Linked DNA regions of Homo sapiens. The protein of the gene in region 2 interacts with the protein of the main gene of each other region in a pairwise test. Each region holds a gene or a part of one and is shown on either strand. Other genes may lie near its edges.

What was found.
Region 1: the proteins of PPP1R16A (region 2) and ATP23 interact in binary tests that used the Homo sapiens proteins (3 or more experiments, as listed by UniProt).
Region 3: the proteins of PPP1R16A (region 2) and BATF2 interact in binary tests that used the Homo sapiens proteins (3 or more experiments, as listed by UniProt).
Region 4: the proteins of PPP1R16A (region 2) and CDCA7L interact in binary tests that used the Homo sapiens proteins (3 or more experiments, as listed by UniProt).

Annotation. Positions count from the first base shown.
Region 1 is NC_000012.12:57,950,811-57,955,519, reverse strand, and holds part of ATP23 (mitochondrial inner membrane protease ATP23 homolog), read right to left. Parts: exon of another isoform or gene 4,636-4,709; intron 3,763-4,635; coding exon 3,625-3,762; intron 1,915-3,624; coding exon 1,831-1,914; intron 1-1,830.
Region 2 is NC_000008.11:144,476,049-144,481,509, forward strand, and holds the start of PPP1R16A (protein phosphatase 1 regulatory subunit 16A), read left to right. Parts: upstream 1-1,933; 5' UTR 1,934-2,079; intron 2,080-2,302; exon of another isoform or gene 2,303-2,505; intron 2,506-2,537; exon of another isoform or gene 2,538-2,634; intron 2,635-5,461. UniProt on the Homo sapiens protein: Inhibits protein phosphatase 1 activity toward phosphorylase, myosin light chain and myosin substrates.
Region 3 is NC_000011.10:64,993,719-64,999,024, forward strand, and holds the start of BATF2 (basic leucine zipper transcriptional factor ATF-like 2), read right to left. Parts: upstream 3,254-5,306; 5' UTR 3,197-3,253; coding exon 3,158-3,196; intron 832-3,157; coding exon 730-831; intron 1-729.
Region 4 is NC_000007.14:21,903,947-21,908,655, forward strand, and holds part of CDCA7L (cell division cycle-associated 7-like protein), read right to left. Parts: intron 4,562-4,709; coding exon 4,184-4,561; intron 2,694-4,183; coding exon 2,622-2,693; intron 2,511-2,621; coding exon 2,343-2,510; intron 1,686-2,342; coding exon 1,560-1,685; intron 314-1,559; coding exon 164-313; intron 1-163. UniProt on the Homo sapiens protein: Plays a role in transcriptional regulation as a repressor that inhibits monoamine oxidase A (MAOA) activity and gene expression by binding to the promoter.

The DNA.
Region 1 (4,709 bases), on a different chromosome or scaffold from region 2:
GTACTTGCTGTTTCTATTTCCTGGGTACATGCTGTACAAAAGCAGGGACTCCATTCTCTAAGACTCTTCTCCCTCAGCCAGATTCCTACTACCTCCACTTATTTTCTGTCCTATTGCTGTTTCTATTTGTTTTCTGCTGCTGCTACCCAATGGTAAAAAGAGGAAAACTTCCTCTTTCAAAGATTGTGTGCATCACAAACCTATCACAAAGATAGAAGGTGAATTAAAAAAAAAAAAAACATGCTCTATTTCTTTAGTATATCAACTGATTTTTTTTTAATTGGAAAAGAATATAAAATTAGCATATTTTTCTAAAAACAGAGTATATGTAATAGTTTTTTTTTTTAAGGAATTTTTCAAACTCTATTGACAAGAGCAGATATCCATAAGCTATGCCAGCACATGCTTTAACCACATTATTCTCTTCTCTAGGGGCGTGCTGATGTGTACCCTGCTTCCACCCTCTCCACTGACAGCCAGAACACACAGAATTCACCAGAGAAGCAGGGACTCAAGGGCACAGAAAACATGCAGCACAAGACAAGTCACTGGCATATCACTAAGCTGACCTGGCAGAGGCTGAACACCTCACTGTCTAGAGTAATCACCCTTTCCAGGCAGAAGGCTTTTCTTCTCCCTCCCATTCACTAAGTTCACAATTTCTGAGTAGCTCACTGTGACTTTCCACCCCCCACTCCAGAGTTGAGTTACTCTCTTCTCCAGAAAACCAAGGGCCTTCCTGTTGTCCTAAGCCTATCTTTTTTCATCTAGTTGGAACTGATATCGTGATGCTCATATACTTCACAAACTGACTCAGCAGGCTCTTACTGTAGAAAATGACTGACCAGCCTTTCTCCTAAATGTGGACACAGGCCCAGGCAGAACTGCTCACATTCATTATCAATCCATGAGTCCTATACTTTCTTTCCCCACGTCCACCTAATACAGATCTCAAAGCCTTTCTACCAGGATAATCTTGCCTTATAGCTCTCTTTTGTTTTTTGTTTTTGTTTTGTTCACACAAATCCCTCTCAGCTAAGCTCATCATACTCAAGTCTGTGCTAAGCCAAAGGTTTTCTATCACATTATATAGCCTTTACAGGTACACTGACACATAGCCATAACTTGTGCAGCAACACACTCTCTGTTCTGAAAGGGATTACATCTTTTGTCTCCAGAATGCTATGGTAGATTCAAAATAGAAGTCAAGAATTGTTAGAATAACAGTAAGACATGCTGTGATTTCACTTCCATTCCTTATCCACCCCCATCGAAAAGTATCCCAGATGCAAGATCTTAGCTCCTTTTTTTTTTTTTTTTTTTTTGAGATGGAGTCTCACTCTGTGGCCCAGACTGGAGTGCAGTGGCATGATCTCGGCTCACTGCAACCTCCATCTCCCAGATTCAAGTGATTCTCCTGCCTCAGCCTCCATAGTAGTTGGGACTACAGGTGTGCTCCACTACGCCCAGCTAATTTTTTTGTATTTTTAGTAGACACGGGGTTTCACCATGTTGGCCACGCTGGTCTCGATCTCCTGACCTCGTGATCCGCCCGCCTCGGCCTCCCAAACTGCTGGGAGGCATAAGCCACCGCACCAGGCCTCTTTTCATTATTAGACTATCTCACACACTCATTGAGTCACATAGCTTGCCCATAATTACAAAGTAGAACTAAATTCCATCTACTTTGTTTAAATGGTACATACTTTGTATTCTTTTCACATACGAAGTTCTTTCAAATTTCAAATACTGAATGTACTTTTCATTTCTTTATTCATTATTTCCACTCGTAACACTCTGGAGGGGAAGTGATTTCATATTAGTTTTTACCTGGTGGTGTTGTTTTAATCCAAAATGTAACCTGAATATTTCATTGACAAGTGAGCAGTCTCCACTAAGGTTAGCAGCTCGAACCTATCACACAGAAGACAAATAAAAAGAAATAAACGCTCATGCTCTATATATCTTTATGATATCAACCAATTTTTAAAAATTAGAAAAGAATATAAAATTAGCATCTTTGTCTGAGAAAAGAGTATTTGTGACACTTCTTCTTAAAGGACTTTTTAAACTCTATTGACAACGAGAGCAAATATCTATGAGCTATGCTAGACAATGCCAAATACACTGGAGAGATGGGGAAAAGTTCAATCGCCTACCAAAGGAAATTTTCTAAACTTTATGCGTAGCTTTACTGACAGAACTAATTTCTTTTGGAACCAAAAGTCAGAGAGCTAGACCTCAGAGTTAAACTACACACTCTACAAGATACAAATACTTGTAGAAATTGCCAAAAGTACTTCAAGAAAGCATTCTTGAAATAAACTGAGTTTCAATGTGACCTTAAAACTGAATGCATTAATATCTGAGACACTTTGAGAATATGCCCCTCCCAACCCTTGCCCGAATCTCCCTTGGAGCTTCCCTCAAACCTATATAAGTTCATGACCTTCCTCTAGGGACTTGATTGTCCTATGAAAAATGAAGCAATACAAAACACAAAGAATCAAGAACATTCCAAACTGGTCACGCTATGAGCATGACAGCCTGAAATTAGGACATATTTTCAGATTTACTATACTTCAATGAATGAAAAAGTCTTAGAACTACCCACATAGATTCTACAGGCAGCTTGACCACATTTTTGCTAATTCATTGCTAACAGAATGGCCCACTTCTTGTTCCTTCTTCAATATTATGGCCTCATTCCTCTGAGGAGCTCAAAGTACTTAACACACTTTAACTAGCTAAAAGGCATTAATTCTCACAGTACCCAAGAAAGAGACCTATTTAAAAATTCAGGTTTCAGTCTATTCTCCAAATAATTGGAATTATAATTAGATGCAGGGGGCTACATATTAATTTCAAGAGAAAGGGAAATAATCGAAGTTATATAGTATAGGCTTGAGATTTAGATTATTTTAATTAACTCTTCAATTAATGACATCCAAGTATATGCATATGCAGAATACGCTCTCTCTAGGAGCATATTCCAAGAGCAATCCAACGTGCTTAGTAATAAATATCTTTTTATGTTGTATTTTTGAAAAGAGCATGTTTTACTCTAGGGCAAGCAAGGAGCTCTATGGAAGGCAGCTGGGCAAGCTAGTTAAAAACACTAGTTGTAATCCTGCCTCTACCACTTACTAACTTTGGAATCTAAACAACTGTCTCACTTTCCACATATGTAAAACAGGGACAATAATAGTATAATATCTATCTCAGTAGGTTATTGTGAAGATTAAATAAGAATCTGTGCAAACAGAACAGTGTTTGGAACACAGCCCTCAGTAAATTTTAATTATTTTTTTATTTTTATTTTTATTATTAATGTCTCCTATGGAATACATTATAAAATATATTCCATAGGAAAAAATTAATAGCTTATTAAAGTCAGTCATCACTATTACTAGGACTTACAGGATATAGTTAAGAGAATTCTAAAAATACACTTTAAATTTCTCTAACTGTATATCAAAAATGGTATTCAATGTTAGTTATAAACCGAAATTCAAGACTAAGGTAGAACTATGACAGTAAGAAAAGGAATACATTTAAATAAATTACACTTGAATAAAATATTCAAGCATAGAGTATTCTGGAGAAAAATACAATAAAACTCACCTCTGAGCACGCCAAATGTCTGATGTTGGTGAACCAGTCGACATGGGCACGACAATGATCAAATGCATGAATAAGCTCGTGTGTGACCACTCTGTTCATATGGGCCTGATTATGGATATTATTCTGGCACAAAACTATCTAGGAGACACCAAAATAAAAGAAGTTCAGTGATTCTAAAATCTCCTTCCATAGACTCGATCTTCTCTCCCACATGACCTCACCTCTCCCCCACAAGCTCACCTGCCTGGAATATCTCTACCCACTCTTCTTCATTGGCCACACATCTACCCATGGGACAAGTCCTAGTCCTAAGTGTACATGCTCCAATTGCCTCGCCCAGTGACTAACTTCTCCCTTCTCCTCTCTCTGGACTACAGCAGTACTTAGATTAAGGACACGTATTCACACACCATCCTTACTGGGCTGATCGTACTAGTCTGTCTCGGACTCCACAGCATTATGGTTAAGAGAGTGGGCTTTGGAATGAAGCACACAGATTCAAATTCCAGCTCCACCCCTTACTAACTCAGTGACCTTAGGCAAGTTTCTTAATCTCTCTGTACCTCAATTTCCTCAACTATAAAAAGGAGATAATTAGGGTAGCTACCTCATAGAACTGTGAGAATTAAATGAGAATATATGTAAAATACTTCTTATCAAGTTTCTGAATGAGCATTGAATGAAAAAGGAATGACCACCACTGTCCTCATTTTACTAGAATGAGGGCAAATGCCAGGGAAAACTCATCAGAAAGACCTTCAGAAAGAAGTGCAAAACACAACAGCACACTGAGCAGGACCCTATAAGAATAAGAAAGACACAAGGGATCCTAATAGTAATAGCTGCCATTGATTGTGTACTACTGCCAGACACTGGGATATGTGCCAGATATTTATATACATTCATTCAACATCCATTGATTCAACTAATACTTATTGAGACCTAATAATAGATTATAATCTACTGATGGAGATAGAAACTAACCAAATATTTACCAAAATGTTTACATACATGCAATGACAGTTGTCATGAAGAAAAACCCAGGTTGTCATGAGCATATACAATGAGGTTGGGTGCAGTGGCTC
Region 2 (5,461 bases):
TGGGTGGCCAGGCCCGGCTTCAAAGGGGCTGCGATGACCCATGGCTACTTTATCCCGTCTTCCCTGGTCAGGTTTCAGGACCCCATTTAACAAATGGGGGAGTATTTAGCCCATGCCAAGCTCCCAAGGCGTGGGGCGCTCCTGGAGTTCAAGATCTAGCAGCTGCTAGTAGGCCCTGAACTATGGGGGCTGGATATCCACCCAGGACATGATCAGGTGGAGCTTCCTGGAGGAGAAGGCCATGAAGCCCGCACCCTAGGAACAAGAGGGGGACACATTGACTCAACTGATTTCCTGGGAGTTGCTTCAGGAGCCCAGGTGGACCGCTCACCTCCTCCTCCCTAGCCATCTCTGCTCCTCCACCCAAGCAAGGCTGGTATTGTGTATCCTGCCCCAAAGCCCAGGTTCTCCTCCCTCACAAGGGGCAAGTTTGCCCAAGAGGATAGCAGCTCTGGGAATTAGCAGCGGTGGTTGGTGCTGGCACCAGGCCAAGGGCCCCCAGACACACGGGGGCCCAGGGATATGCTTTTGCCCTTCACTCTGAGAATTCAGCTTTTCTTGTGCAGCCTCCACCATGATAACCTCAAAGGGCTGAAAATCTGCAGCATACGGTGGGGTCCAGCACACCCTGAGGTGTGGAGGGGAGGGACAGGCAGCAAGTGTCCAGGAGGAGGAGGCCTGGGCCGCAAGGGGCCTTGTATGTGGGGTACCACACTGCTCCTGCCCCCCACACCCCCGGTCGGGTGGTGCCCCTTTTCCTTCTATCTCTGACTCTCCCCTCAGACGCCACGTGGTTTCCCTCAGGACTCCTGCCACCACCTCTCTGCTGTGTTCCCTAGGTTATGGCTGCACAATCCTGTGCCTCATGAGGCTAATACTTGTGGCCACTTCACCCCATTCGGTCAGCAAGGCGTCGTTCTTTCCTACAAGTGTTTGTTGTTGTTGTTGTTTTGAGACAAGGTCTCACTCTGTTGCCCAGGCTGGAGTGCAGTGGTGCGATCTGGGCCCCGTGCAGCCTCCACCTCCCCCGCTAGGGCGATCCTCCCGACTCAGCGTCCCGGGACTACAGGCGTGCGCCACAGAGCCCAGCTAATTTCTTAATTTTTGGTAGGGACCGGGCCTGCCTATGTTGCTCAGGTTGGTCTCCCGGGCTCAAGTGACCCACTGGCCTCGGCCTCCTCCCAAAGTGCTGGGATCACAGACGTGAGCCACCGGGCCGGGCCTTTCCCATAATTTTTTTTTTTTTTTTGAGACGGAGTCTCACTCTGCCGCCCAGGCTGGAGTGCAGTGGCGTGATCTCGGCTCACTGCAAGCTCCGCTTCCCGGGTTCATGCCATTCTCCTGCCTCAGCCTCCCGAGTAGCTGGGACTACAGGCGCCCACCACCACGCCCGGCTAATTTTTTTGTATTTTTAGTGGAGACGGGGTTTCATCAGGTTAGCTAGGATGGTCTCGATTTCCTGACCTCGTGATCTGCCCGCCTCGGCCTCCCAAAGTGCTGGGATTACAGGCGTGAGACACCGCGCCCGGTCTCCCGTAAGTTTTAAGGCACCCCCCTCTCCACTGGCGCTTCCTTGGTGGGGCGCTGGAGGCTCCCCAAGTTCTGACCGCTCTTCTCCGACCGCACTGTCCTGGGCCCGAAACCACCCCCAAAGCTGCCACCCATTCCGCTGGCGCCCGTCCCGTTGCCCGCGATGACTCGGTTTTGTCCAGCATAAATCAATGACCACCGTCCCGGGAGCCTTGGAGCACTTTGAGCCATTCCCGTCCCACCCACGCCCCAAGGAGGTCCCAGCCGCGGAGGACTCGCCCGGCCGCCCGCAGCTGTCCGCGTTGGCCCCCACCCCCGACCGTCCCTCCCCAGGCCCCGCCCCCGACATTTCCTCCTCCCAGGCTCCGCCCCCGGCTCCCACGGGGCACCGCGGCTTCCGGCTATGGGTACCGCGGGCCGGAAGTGTAGCGTTGCCATGGCGAGGGCCGGGTGCGGGGCCCGCCCCCGCAGCGCCTCAGGGAGCGCGGGGCCCACTGACCCGCGGAAGCCAGCGGACCCACTTGTGCGGCGGTCGGCGCGGGGCGCGAGGTGAGGCGCGGACTCCCGGGTCCTGCGGCGGGAGCGGAGCGAGGGAGAGGGGCCCCGGCCAGGGAGAGCAGTGGCGGGCCCGGGAAGGAGGGGCACTGGGTCGACACCGAGAGAGGAGGCCGGGCCGGGGAAGGATGAGGCAGAGGAGAGGGAGGAGGCCGGGAAGGGCGGGAGGAGGAGGAGACCGAAGGGAGAGAGGAGGCTGGCGACGGAGGAGGCCGGGGAGGGGCCCTCGGGAGACGCGGCTGCCGGCACGCGGGCGCCCAGGGCACAGGTCCCGCCGGGCCGCCTTGGGCGTTGCTGGCTGAGGCCCAGGGCAGCAGGTGCCAACGGTCAGGAAAGGCAGGGAGCCGAAGGCTGCCGGTGGGCGCTTCGCGTTTTGTTCCAAGGCGAAGGTGTGTGGATTCTCCGCAGCCCGTCGGTCAGGTAGACAGCTCCGGAATTGTCTTCATTTTCAGATGAGGAAATCGAGGCCGCAGAGAAGGGACTTACCCAAACTTAAGCTTTGTGTGGGCCTTGGAGCTAGGCTGAAGGAGAAAGTGGAGTCTCACTGGGGCAAGTTCCTTCAACTTTCAGGGATTCAAATGACCTCACTTGTAGTGCGGGGCGTCCGGACCACCCCTCAGGAATTGGGATCAGGGCAAGAATTACTAACTAAGCAAGCACCCCGCCTGGGAGGGAGCGTCCAGGACTGGTGTGGGCCCCTGTCTGTACCAGAGCGGAGGCCCGGGGCACGGTGGGATTAATTTCCATGGGTGCAGAGAGGGGAGCCGTGTACGGAGTCATTCTAGGCTTAGGGGAGACAGAGCAAAGTTAGCCTTCCCCAAACCTCTGTGCCTTCCTTTTCTTCCTGGATTCCTACCTGGGGGTGGAGGTGGAGGCGGGGGTACCGCTGCCTTTCTCAAAGTGTGTCTAGTCCAGCAGTGAGCCCTCCTGGGCGTCTTGGCGCCCCAGTTGCTTCCTGGACGTATTGGGGTTTCTCTGGGAGAAGGGTCTTGCCTGCAGTACCCTGGGCCTCCTGAAGAGGCCTCTGGTTGCGCTGCCTGATTCAGGGACCCAGAGCCACGACTCGCCGAGAGGAGCTCCGGCGGCGTGCGGCTGGGTTGCCTGAGGGGCTGGGGGCTGCCTGGTGGACTTGCACACATGCTGGCTCCATACCTGTCACTGTGGTGGACGCTCAGAGCTCTACAGGGCCAGCTGCCTGCCCCTGCCCCAAGTCCCCCGGGCTGGGGTTGGGATGGGGGTGGCTTTAGGGGGTCCTTCCCCCTCCTGGTGCTCGAGCTGGATTTCCTCCCTGTTGGCTGGGGCCATCCCTCGTGTCTCTGATTGGCCTGTCCTGGCCTCATCCCTCACCTGCTTGGGATGCACTTGGACTCTGCTTTGCCCCGAGGGTTGCCTGGGCTGGCACCTAGCAAGGGGGCTCCTCCTGTATGACTGTACTTTGGGGTCTGTGTTCTAGGGATTCTTGAACCTCTGGTCTGAATGAACAGCCGATTGATACAGCTCTCCACTGCATGCAGCTTAGGAACCTCAGTCTCAGGTGACCCCACAGACTACCAGCACCCCCAGCTCCACCCTTGCTCTTCCCCGAGCGTGTCCTAACCCTAGCACTTGTGCCACATCTATCCATTGGCCAAAATGAGAACTGGGTGGCAGTTCCAGGCCCTTCTTTCATGCCGAGGCTCTCCTGGCACTGGTGCACGCACACCTAAAGGGAGGCCTTTTCATCAGACTTGCTCAGCCAGGAGCTCAGAGCCTTCCATGTCACATCCTGTGCTGGGACCCCTGTGCCAGAGGCTCAGCAGCTGTTCACTTGTTCAGCTCACTGCACTTACTGAGTGCTGCCTATGAGTCAGGAACTGGCCAAGTTCTTAGGATGCAACAGGGAAACAAACAGTAACTGGCATGTCAAGAATTAAAACAAGGTGATGAGATAAGAGAATGACAAGGTAACCACAGAAGATCTCTGAGGAGGTTGCACTTAAGATGTGATCCGAGTCCCACAAAGGAGCATGCTGTCCTAAGATCCGGTGGAAGAACTTTCCAGACAGAAGGAGCAGCTGATGAAGGTGGCGGTGATGATGAAGCTGGTAGCACCAAATAAATGTGCTAGACCAGGGGTTGGCCAGCTTTTACTGTGAAGGGCTAGGCAGCAAACATTTTAGGCTTTGCTGACCATGTGGCTTTCTGTTTTTTTGTTTGTTTGAGATGGAGTCTCACTCTGTCGCCCAGACTGGAGTGCGGTTGCACAATCTCCACTCACTGCAACCTCTGCCTCCCGCGTTCAAATGATTTTCCTGCCTCAGCCTCCCCAGTAGCTGGGATTACAGGCACATGCTACCATGCCAGTTAATTTTTATATCTTTTTTTTTTTTTTTGAGACAGAGTCTTGCTCTGTAGCCAGGCTGCAGTGCAGTGGTGCAATCTCAGCTCACTGCAACCTCCGTCTCTCGAATTCAAGTGATTCTCCTGCCTCAGCCTCCCAAGTAGCTGGGACTACAGGCGCATGCCACCACGGCCAGTAATTTTTGTACTTTTAGTAGAGATGGGATTTCACCGTGTTGGCCAGAATGGTCTCGAACTCCTGACCTCATTATCCTCCTGCCTTGGCCTCCCGAAGTGCGGGGATTACAGGCGTGAGCCACTGTGCCCAGCCCATGCTTTGATTTTTTACATCAAACTTTATTGAGGTGTAACTTACAGTAAGATGCACCTATTTTAATGGGTTTTGTGTGATGGGTTTTGTTTAATGGGTTTTGTTTGATGGGTTTTTTTTTTTGACGGAGTCTCATGCTGTGTCGCCCAGGCTGGAGTGCAGTGGCACGATCTTGGCTCACTGCAAGCTCCGCCTCCTGGGTTCACACCATTCTCCTGCCTCAGCCTCCCAAGTAGCTGGGACTACAGGCGCCCACCACCACGCCCGGCTAATTTTTTGTATTTTTTTAGTAGAGTCGGGGTTTCACCATGTTAGCCAGGATGGTCTCGATCTCCTGACCTCGTGATCCGCCCGCCTCGGCCTCCCAAAGTGCTGGGATTACAGGCGTGACCACCGCGCCCGGCCTGTTTGATGGGTTTTGTGAACAACGTCATAATCCAAATATAAAACATTTCCGTTGCCCCCAAAAGTTCTCTCGTGCTCCTCTGTGGTAAGCCCTTCCTCACACCCAGCCCAGGCAATAGTGATCGCTTTCTATTACTGTAGGTTTGGCGTCCCTTTTTAAGAATTTCACATTGGCTGGGCGTGGGGGCTCACGCCTGTAATCCCAGCACTTTGGGAGGCTGAGGCGGGTGGATCATCTGAGGTTGGGAGTTCGAGACCAGCCTGACCACCATGGAGAAACCCTGTCTCTACTAAAAATACAAAAAGTTAGCCAGGCATGGT
Region 3 (5,306 bases), on a different chromosome or scaffold from region 2:
GTGATTAATCACAAATCACCGTGCAGGTCCCTGGGCCCACCTGGCCTCATGAGGTGGGACCTGGCAGAGGAAGAATAATCCACTTTTTTTTTTCTATAGACAGGGTCTCAATCTGTTGCCCAGGTTGGATGCAGTGGTACAATCATGGCTCACTGCAGCCTTGAACTTCTGGGCTCAAGCGATCCTCCTGCCTCAGTTTCCTGAGTAGCTGGGACTACAGGTGTGCACCATCACGCCCAGCTAACTATTTTTTAATTTTTGTAGAGACAGAGTCTCACTATATTGCCCAGGCTGGTCTTGAACTCCTGGGCTCAAACAATCCTCCAGCCTCAGCCTCCCAAAGTGCTAGGATTACAGGTGTGAGCCACAGTGCCCAGCCTGGAATCTGCATTTTAACCAGTGTCTCAGCTGGCCATTGTGTTGGGGTCTCCCTATTTGCCTCCACTTCCTGTCTTCCTTCCCCTAGACTGCGGACACCTTAGGACACGGCTGGGCTGAGGATGACCCTTTGTGTCCCTGGAGCCTGGTGTGTACCTGGCACATGGTTTGTACTCAACACCCAGAACTTTCCAAATGTCAGCCACAGGATCCTTTTCTCATCCCAAACTCAGGTGACCTAGAAAAATACAGGAGTTTGGGGGAGGTCTGCTCAAAGGTGGGATGGAGAAGAGGTGGCTGGGCCAGTAAGTGGAGCCAGAGACAAGGAAAGGGGTTAGGGGTTGTCCACACCTGGTGCAGGGCGTCTGCCTTGTCTGTGTGCTTCTGCCGGCTTCGCTGGGCGGCTGCCCGGTTCTTCTGCTTCTTCAGCTGCCTTTGTTGCTCCTTGGGGTCCTGTGGGGCATGAGGCAGAGGACTCAGGGGGCCCAGCCAGGCCTTGTGCCCTCCGTCCTGGCCCGCCATTTGTAAAGCCAAGTCTTTCCCCTTGAGTCAAGTTCCCAAGGGTCTTTTATCTCCCAGAAGCTCCCTTGGCACCCACACCCCCTATAGCAGGCACTGCACACCTTGTTGGAACGCCAGCCTCACCCCTGTGTCCTGCTCACCGCTCATGTGGAGGGTGGGAGGGCAAGCAGGGAAGATGGGAAGCCTGAGATTCAAACTCAGACAGAGCCAACTTCAAACCCCACATTCTTTTTTCCTTTTTTTTTGAGACAGAGTCTCACTCTGTTGCCCAGGCTGGAGTAGTGCAGCGGCTCTATCTTGGCTCACTGCAAACTCTGACTCCCGGGTTCAAGCAATTCTCCTGCCTCGGCCTCCCAAGTAGCTGGGACTACAGGCACCTGCCACCATTCCTGGCCAATTTTTGTATTTTTAGTAGAGATGGGGTTTCCTCATGTTGGCCAGGCTCATCTCAAACTGGTCTTGAACTCCTGACCTCAGGTGATTCACCAGCCTCGGCCTCCCAAAGTGCTGGGATTACAGGTGTGAGCCACCGTGCCCAGCCGAGCCCCATATTCTTGAACCCAATCGCCCCATCCCTGCAATGGAAGCACCACAGCAGAGGGTTAAAGCCCATGCGGCAGGCAGCCCAGAGCCGGCGTGCCATAAAGCTCAGCTTCCATTCTTCTCATTGCCATGATTTCCACACCAAGGTGTGAACTTTCCTAACTGTGAGCTCCATGAGGGCAGATGTGGTTCTCTGTGCTCATGCCCAGCTCAAGCCCAAAGCAGATATTCACTTACTCAACAAACATGTATAAGCACCTACTATGTTCCAGGCAGTAAGCTAGAGGGACATGATAGCAAACAAAATACACACAAATCCCTGCCCTGAAATTGCTCACATTGTAGTGGGGTGGTAGCGAAGGATGAATGAATGAAGGGTTTATTCCGGTGGAAGAGTGGACTCAAAGGTTGTGACCACCTTGTACCCTGGGATCAATGAAACTTAGATAAAATATTTTACCCAAATGTCCAGAGCTCTGCAAAGTCAGAGCAAGAGGGACTGTTGGAGAGCTCACAGCCCAGCCCCCGCCCCCAAGTCTCTCTGGGGTATGTGTTTTGAGGGTAAGGACCTCAGGCAAGGCCCTGGCCGCCCTGGCTGCAGATTCTGAATGCTCCTAGGCTCCTGCTCCATATGCTCCCTTGGGCCATGTCCACAGCGGGCTCACTGTAGACACTGGGGCACCAAGAAACTAAAGGCTGAGACAGGACCCACGGTGAGTGAAGGGGGCTCCTGTGAGATAAGCAGAGCCTCCAAGGGAAACCATGGCCCAGGGAATTTATTTATTATTTTACTTTATTTTATTTTATTTTATTTTATTGAGACAGAGTCTCTGTCGCCCAGGCTGGAGTGCAGTGGCGTGATCTTGGCTCACTGCGACCTCCGCCTCCCAGGTTCAAGTGATTCTCCTGCCTCAGCCTCCTGAGAAGCTGGGATTACAGGCATGTGCCTCCACCACGCCCAGCTAATTTTTCTATTTTTAATAGAGACGGGGTTTCACCATGTTGGCCAGGATGGTCTCGATCTCCTGACCTCAGGTGATCTGCCCGCCTCAGCCTCCCAAAGTGCTGGGATTACAGGTGTGAGCCACTGAGCCCGGCCTATTTTATTTTATTGAGACAGAGTCTCTCTCTGTCACCCAGGCTGGAGTGCAGTGACATGAGCTCAGCTTACTGCAACCTCCATCTCCCGGGTTCAAGCAACTTTCCTGCCTCAGCCTCTCGAGTAGCTGAGACTACAGACGTGCCCTGCCACACCTGGCTAATTTTTGTATTTCTAGTAGAGACGGGGTTTCGCCATGTTGGCCAGGCTGATCTTGAACTCCTAACCTCATGTTATCTGCCGGCCTCAGACTCCCAAGGGGCTGGGATTACAGGCATGAGCCGGCCTGGGTTATTTGGAGAAGGAAGGAAAGGCTGCTGTGAGTGTAGTGAGGGGGGACCAGGTACGTTAGGAGAGAGCAAGTACACAGAGGCCAAGTTCTAAACCGAAGGCTGGATCTGCAATGTGAGAGCTGGAAACAACTCATTCCAATCCAATCCCGACTTCGGGGGAGGAAAGTGAGACCCAGAGAGGGGCATGCAGAGCCCTCTGTCACACTGCTCAGAGTATAGAGCTGGGACTAGGAGCTCCCGACTGCAGCCCTCACTGCCTGGGCACTGAGGACGGGATCCCAGCTCCCCTTCTCATCCCCGATCCCCAATCCCCTGTACTCACTGTCTGGGTCAGCAGCCCATTGCCCCCACAGAGGTGCATGGCTTAGGCGGGGGAGCAGAGTGGTCCCTCAGCAGCTGTGACTTCCCAGTGCCCTCTGGAGGCCTAAGGAAGTGGCAGCTCTTTAAATCCCCAGTGGCCACTCCGCCCCCAGAGGGCCAAGTTTCAGTTTCTCCTAAAGCCACCAGCTGCTCAGAATCCCTGGCTCAGGCTTGCTCACGTGGCTAGAATTTCCTAACATGAACTGGCCTTCCGGTTGGGCCCCTTCTCTGGAAAGAGGATGGTGGAGGGTGGAGAGGAGGGAAGACCAAAGGCCAGGTATGAGGAGGGTGTTCTAGGGGAGGGAGGACAGGCGGCCAGGGACTGAGATGAGAGAAGAAGCCAGTGGGGACCGATGCTCATGTGGGGTAGAGAGAGCCCTTGAGCTCTGGAATTGGGGGAACTCTGGATCACAGCACACATTGGAGCTGTCCAACTTTCAGAAAGTGACTCTCCTTCTCTGAGCCCTAGTTTTCTCATCTGGAGGATGGTACAACTACCCACTCCCAGGCTCATTGCAGGAACTAAGCCAGATAATACAACCACCCCCAAACCTTCTGAGACCACTATGGAAGCATGTCTGCAAAATTAAGCAATGGCTGTTGGATAGAACAGATGGATACATTACTGTTTTCATACAACAGACCATGAAGCAGTGGAAAGATTGATGTCCAGTGGTTAGGAGCCCAGCTTCCAAGCTATGTGACTTGGGTTCGTAATTTCATCTGTGTTTCTGTTTCCAAATCTGTAAAGTGGGGATAAAAACAATTTTGTTAGGCCAGATGCAGTGGTTCATGCCTGTAATCCAAGTACTCTGGGAGGCCAAGGCAGGAGGATTACTTGAGCTCAGGAGTTTGAGACCAGCCTGGGCAACATAGCAAGACCTTATCTATATTAAAAATAAAAAAAATAACTGGGCATGGTGGCACACACCTGTATTCCCAGTTACTCAGGAGGCTGAGATGAGAGGATCACTTGAGCCCAGGAGTTCAAGGCTGCAGTGAGCTATAATCTTGCCACTGCACTCCAGCCTGGGCAATAGAGCAAGACCTTGTTTCAAAAAAATTAATTAATTAAAAATTAAAAAATAAAGACCTAGCAAACCCTGAAGCCCCGGGCATACCTGCATGCTTGTTGTATCTCTAAGAGGGACACTTGGATGGGGCATCTGTTTGGGGGCCAGAGGGGCCAGTAATTCCTGTCCAAGAACAGCATGCATGCAGTATGTAGAGTCCTATGGTCTGGTGACTAGAGCATCTTGGAGTTGTACCTGAGACCTGAGGGCTCATGGCTGATGATGTGGTATCACAAGAATGGCAAATACAGATATGATCTTCTGATAGGTGATGGTGGCTGGAATGTTGTTTTAAAGAGTTCATGGACACCTCTGAGCTTAGTAAAAAAGAGTACTGCAGTTGATTAGCAATGTCTGCCACACCATGATCGATTAGTGATGCCTGTTATGGGCAGAGGTGTGGAGAGTGCAGTCCCCTGCTATCCCTAGAACCAGGCATAAAACAAGTCTGGGTTTCAGAGACAAAAGACTTGACTCTCCATCCTGGCACTCCACTCACCCAGTTTATCACCTGGAGCCTCAGTGTCTTCAAAGATATGCTGGTGATCACAAAGAAATGATACCTATTTGACAGTTGTTTTGAAGATGGGAAAGAATGAGATGAGAAGAAAGCTCTTGGGATATTGTAAAGTACTATGTGGCAAGGATTCCCCCTCCTGAAATTTGTGGTGTCATATTCTGGATTCTAAGATTATTAATGCAGGCTCCTAATTTAAAATGCCTGGGTGGGTGAGATTGGGCATAAGAGCTGGGCCTTGCCCTCCTAGCTTCTGAGGGGCCTGGGAGCAGAGGCGGAAGTGGGATGCCCCACGCAGTGAGGCCATCCCTGTTTCTCTGAATTATTGTTTCCTGGAAACCAGGAAGGCTGGGGCGTCTTGCCTGAGGCAGGCACCTGAAGGGCTCATTAAGCCAGCCCATGAGCTCCCCTGGGAGGATCTGCAGGCACCTTGTGCATGATGTGACTACGAAGAAACACCCGTGTGTGCTTGTGTGTGTGTGTGTGTGTGTGGAGGGGCTAGGCCTGAGTGTCCCACTCCA
Region 4 (4,709 bases), on a different chromosome or scaffold from region 2:
GAATCCCTATTTTTCATTTTCCCTGGAGCCTTAAGATACAAATGGAAGGGAAAAACCAGAGTTCTGGAGCTCCCTAGTTCCCAGTGAGAACCCAGGAGGCCCATCTTTATAGCTTGCTTCCTTCACCAATACAATTTACAACAAATGCAAACACTGTTCCTACCGGGTCCAGCAATGCCGATCTGACATCCTCCCCATAGCGGTTCCGCAGGCATGGTCCACAGAACTGTCCTCGCACACCACAGCAACCCTGGTTCCGACACACTGTCTTGGTGTCGATGGTCTTTTGTCGACACTGATGGCACGTGTTACCCTACAGGGGGAAGGCAGTGAGCAGGTGAACACAGGGATATGCTGATGCCCAATGAGGCCAGATGCCACCATGTGCATTTCCAAGTATATGAAGAAATACCCCCGTCTCCTCGAATCAAGCAGGACTGTTTTCCTAAGAACCACAGCATTGTCTCTAGACCGGGGTCCCCAGCCCCCAGGCTAGAACCAGTCTGTGGCCTGTTTGGAACCGGGCTGCACAGCAGGAAGTGAGCAGCGGACGGGCGAGCATTACCGCCTGAGCTCTGCCTCCTGTCAGATCAGCAGCAGCATTAGATTCTCATAGGAGCACAAACCCTCTATTGTGAATTGCACATGTGAGGGATCTAGGTTGTGCACCCTTTATAAGAATCTAATGCCCGATGATCTGAGGTGGAACAGTTTCATCCTGAAACCATCCCCTTCCTGCCCCCCAAATCCATGGAAAAACTGTCTTTCACAAAACCAGTCCCTGGTGCCAAAAAGGTTGGGGACCACTGCTCTAGAATGTAACCATCACAGGTCTGTGGCCAGAGAAACATATTAGGTCAGATGAGGCTGAGCAGAGACCCAGAAGGAATGAAATGATCAGGCTGTCAGGAAGAGAGACCAGAGAAAAGCTTGAGGCAGGGGTGGCAGAGCCCCTGAAAGGTGACAGGTGACTGAGGGGCAATGAGCCTTGGGTGGCATCACCTCGGCCCCAGCCTAGCTCTGCAGACCTGGATACCTTCAATGTGAGATCTATTTTTTTTTAAATATTGGCAACTAAATTTAAAACTTGACAGTGTCCCGTTACATATCCAGAAAAACACAAAAAAAATGCAGAACGCAAAGCCTCCCTCTAAATCACCATTTAGAAGAAATTTAACCCATTTCCTACCAAAGATATTCTGCCAAACTTTAATTTCTATGGTTATATTACCCCCCAAATATACTTTTTTCAATATTTAGAACATAAAACTATATGCTTAAACCATTAACAGTTACATATAAAAATCCCTTTTAAACTATACCGTTCCCTTCCCCCAGATTCTACGCATCCCTAAGAGAGACCGCCGTCCAGATGGGAATTACTGCACTAGGCTGCCTCCCCTTTCCCAGGTACAGCTGACTTTTGACCCTCCAATTCAGAGCCTGGCTCTGAGCCCTTGGTGAGATGGCATAAGCCCTGATAGAGTTTAAAAACAAGTGAGATTTCAATACCAATGCCTTCGACTCCCAATAAGAATGACAATTAATGTATACTTTACCAGAACTTTATCATAGATTTTATCTCGAACAGTTATGGCAACATTTTCTAAGTCCTCTTCGGTGATATCCTCCACTGGCCGAAAAGAAGATATACGGTGACGTCGTCTGTACTCCCGGCATTTCCCCTGCACAATGAACACAAGCAGAACATGGAGATGTGTTGAGCAGTTATAAAAAAATTATAAATATTTTAAACTCTCAAAGATCTAGCACCATTAATGTTAACCCCGTCCCTCTTCTATTTCCCTGCAGCCATTTCATTTAGTTATTTACTGAGCTCCTGCCACCTGCCAAGCTTCCTTCTCAGCAAGGCGATACAATCATAAAGGAGGAACTCAAGGTTTTTGGTTCTTTGCTGTAAACTCTGTGGAGAGGTGAACCACACTGAACAGCCAAACCCACAAATGGGTCCACAGTTGCTCCCTCCAAACTGAAAGCGCTTGAAACGCCTCATGCCTAAAACAGAAAGGCAAGGAGGAATCACTGCACTTTTCTTTATTGCCTGCAGCAGAGATTAAAGCAGGGTCCTAACAAATGAGCTGCTTCTCAGCTCGGCTTGGATAAAAGACTCTCTCTGTGACCTCCAGCTTAGACCAGGGCTGCTTCTCAAAGTGTGATCTCAGGAGCAATGGCATCACCTGGGAAGCAGAGAGAAATGCAAGTTCTCAGCTGCCGCAGACCCACGGGGTCAGAACCAGCCCTGGGGTGACAGTGACGTGCGTTCACGTTTGGAGGGATGGTAGCTCAGACAAAAACTAATTCATGTATTAGTCAGAAAATACCCCAATTGTCTTCCTTCTTCGGAAGCTGTAAAACTCTTCCGCAAATTTAGCGGCTGAGACAGTGAAGTTCTCTAGAGCAAACTTCTCAGGAGGCCGCGCACTCCGGGTTGGGTTCATACGCCGCGTGATCTGTCCCTCCGAGAAGGCCCGCCTCACTGTCTTCTTCCTCTGAAATCAAGAGCACAGACAGAGACAACTGGGGACTCTCTCGAATAAAAGCCGTCTGGTGGCTGATCACCATATATCAGTATTGGTATAATTATAAGGAGTTCTACTTACAGAAGCTGAGGTTGGGGTTCGTACTGGGAAGAAATCTGGCATCGAGTTCAATTCCGCCAATAACTGGGCAAGCTGAAGTTCAGAACAAAAGAAAGAATCTTACAAAAATAGGGCTCCAGGTTTAGGTCATCCAACACCTATCTCAAGTCTTCCATTTTGCCACCATAAGAAACCTAACTTGAATAGTTTATATAACCCACAACAGTTATACTTTTAACCTCACATGTAAAGATTGTACCTCCAGACCTGAGATGCTGATGTCATCATTCATATGAATGAACACTAGCCTATTCCTTATATATAAGGACAACACAACACTATGAAAACAGTCCTGGAATGATCAAGACCTGGAGCATGAGGTTCCGATCCCGACTCGGAGGCTAATCCAAGGCGGTGTGACCCTGGGACAATTCATTTTGCACACGTGAGTCTCAAGTTTCAGGATGTTCAAAAAAGAAAAAGCTCAACTAGATTATTTCGATGGTTATTTAGAACTCCAAAAGTCTGATTCTTTAAATAGATTAATTTCTCATCAATCAAAGTAATCTATGAAGATATTCCTACGTGAACTAATAATACCAAATAATAGGCATTAATATGCCAGAGAATTTAATTAGGATTCGTTTTAGTTTATACAATTATATGAGTGCCACCAAAAAAATCATAAAGAAAATAGCTTATTTTAAAGATGCAGATGGATACAGTGCTGAAAATTTCCCTTAGCTAAGTAAAAATGTTTCTTAGGATAAAAATAATCCGAAAGTAGGCATTCCATTTTTGTAAGTAATTTATATTAGACATATAAGCTTGCATATACAGTATCACTGCATCATTCTTTTTTTAAAAGGAAAAGATTAAAAAATTACCAAAATGCTAAAAGGGATAAGTGGTAGAACTATTTAAAAAAAAACTGTAGATAAACAATTATGAAGCAAACAATGATTCTCTACAATGATCAGATTAACAGTAATTGATTATATACAGAAAAACCAAATATATGTAACAAAGATTTCACCTGGTTCCATTCATTGTTCTAATGAAGACAATGTAGAGTGAATTAACACTGTTGAGGTTGTTTTAATTCCTAGACCTCTTCCATTCCTTCAGAAGTCTCAGAACCAGTGCTGGTCACCATAGAAGAGTGGTTCTGTGGTGAAAAGCTACCTGCCCAACCTGCTCCTTGCAACTTCTCAGTGGACTTGGTGACATCCCACTTCCCCTGCTTTACTCTGCTGGGAACGGGCTAGTTGTTCAGCCCCTCTCATCCCCAACACAACTATATACTTAGAACTTAGCTTGGTCAACAGTAAGCAGCATTATGGCACCATGTAGGGGCTAAAAATGGTGCTGGGGAATCTCTTTCTGTTCCCAAACCAGAGCTGATCATGTAATAGTTGCTCTGGGTTCTGGAAAAGTAAAAGGATACACAATACCCAGAGTATATTTTCTTGACAGAAGCCAAAGCAACAGCAGCAGCTGTAGGAGCAAAGTGGTTCTGGGAGCCCAGCAACTGCTGCCAGAGCCTGGTGCCAACTCCCAGGACGCCCTCCGTGAAGCCTCACCATGGCTTTGTTCTCCTTGATGTTCATGGTCCTTTTCAGCAAAGCATCTGAACTCTCCTGGCTCTCATCCCGAGAGTCATCCTCAGACTCAGAGGTAGAATCTTCCCTTTGTATCACCTGTCTACAGTCTTTCTTTCTTTCAAGAATTGTTTTTTTCTCATTCTGTAAGCGTGCGCTAGAAAACAACTGCTCGGAAGAACTGTTTTTATCTGGTTTGTTGGCCAGCTTCTTGGTGGGGAACTGAAAGGCTACTCGAAGACCAATACTACTTCTTCTAGACCTGCTTCTTCTAGGGGTAGCCTTATCTTCTTCTTCATCTTCCTCTTCCTCGCTCACCAAAGATGCTTTGCCATCATCACTCAAATCTGACTCCACGACCTAATAAAATAAGAGCAAGAAAAAGCACAAAGACACTGTTACAGACCCACAAAAAAGACATGCATTTAAAACAACTGACAGCATTATGAGAAAAAACATGAAAAATGAAAAGCTTCCCCTTCATATTATGAGTTCCCTCTGAATTTCC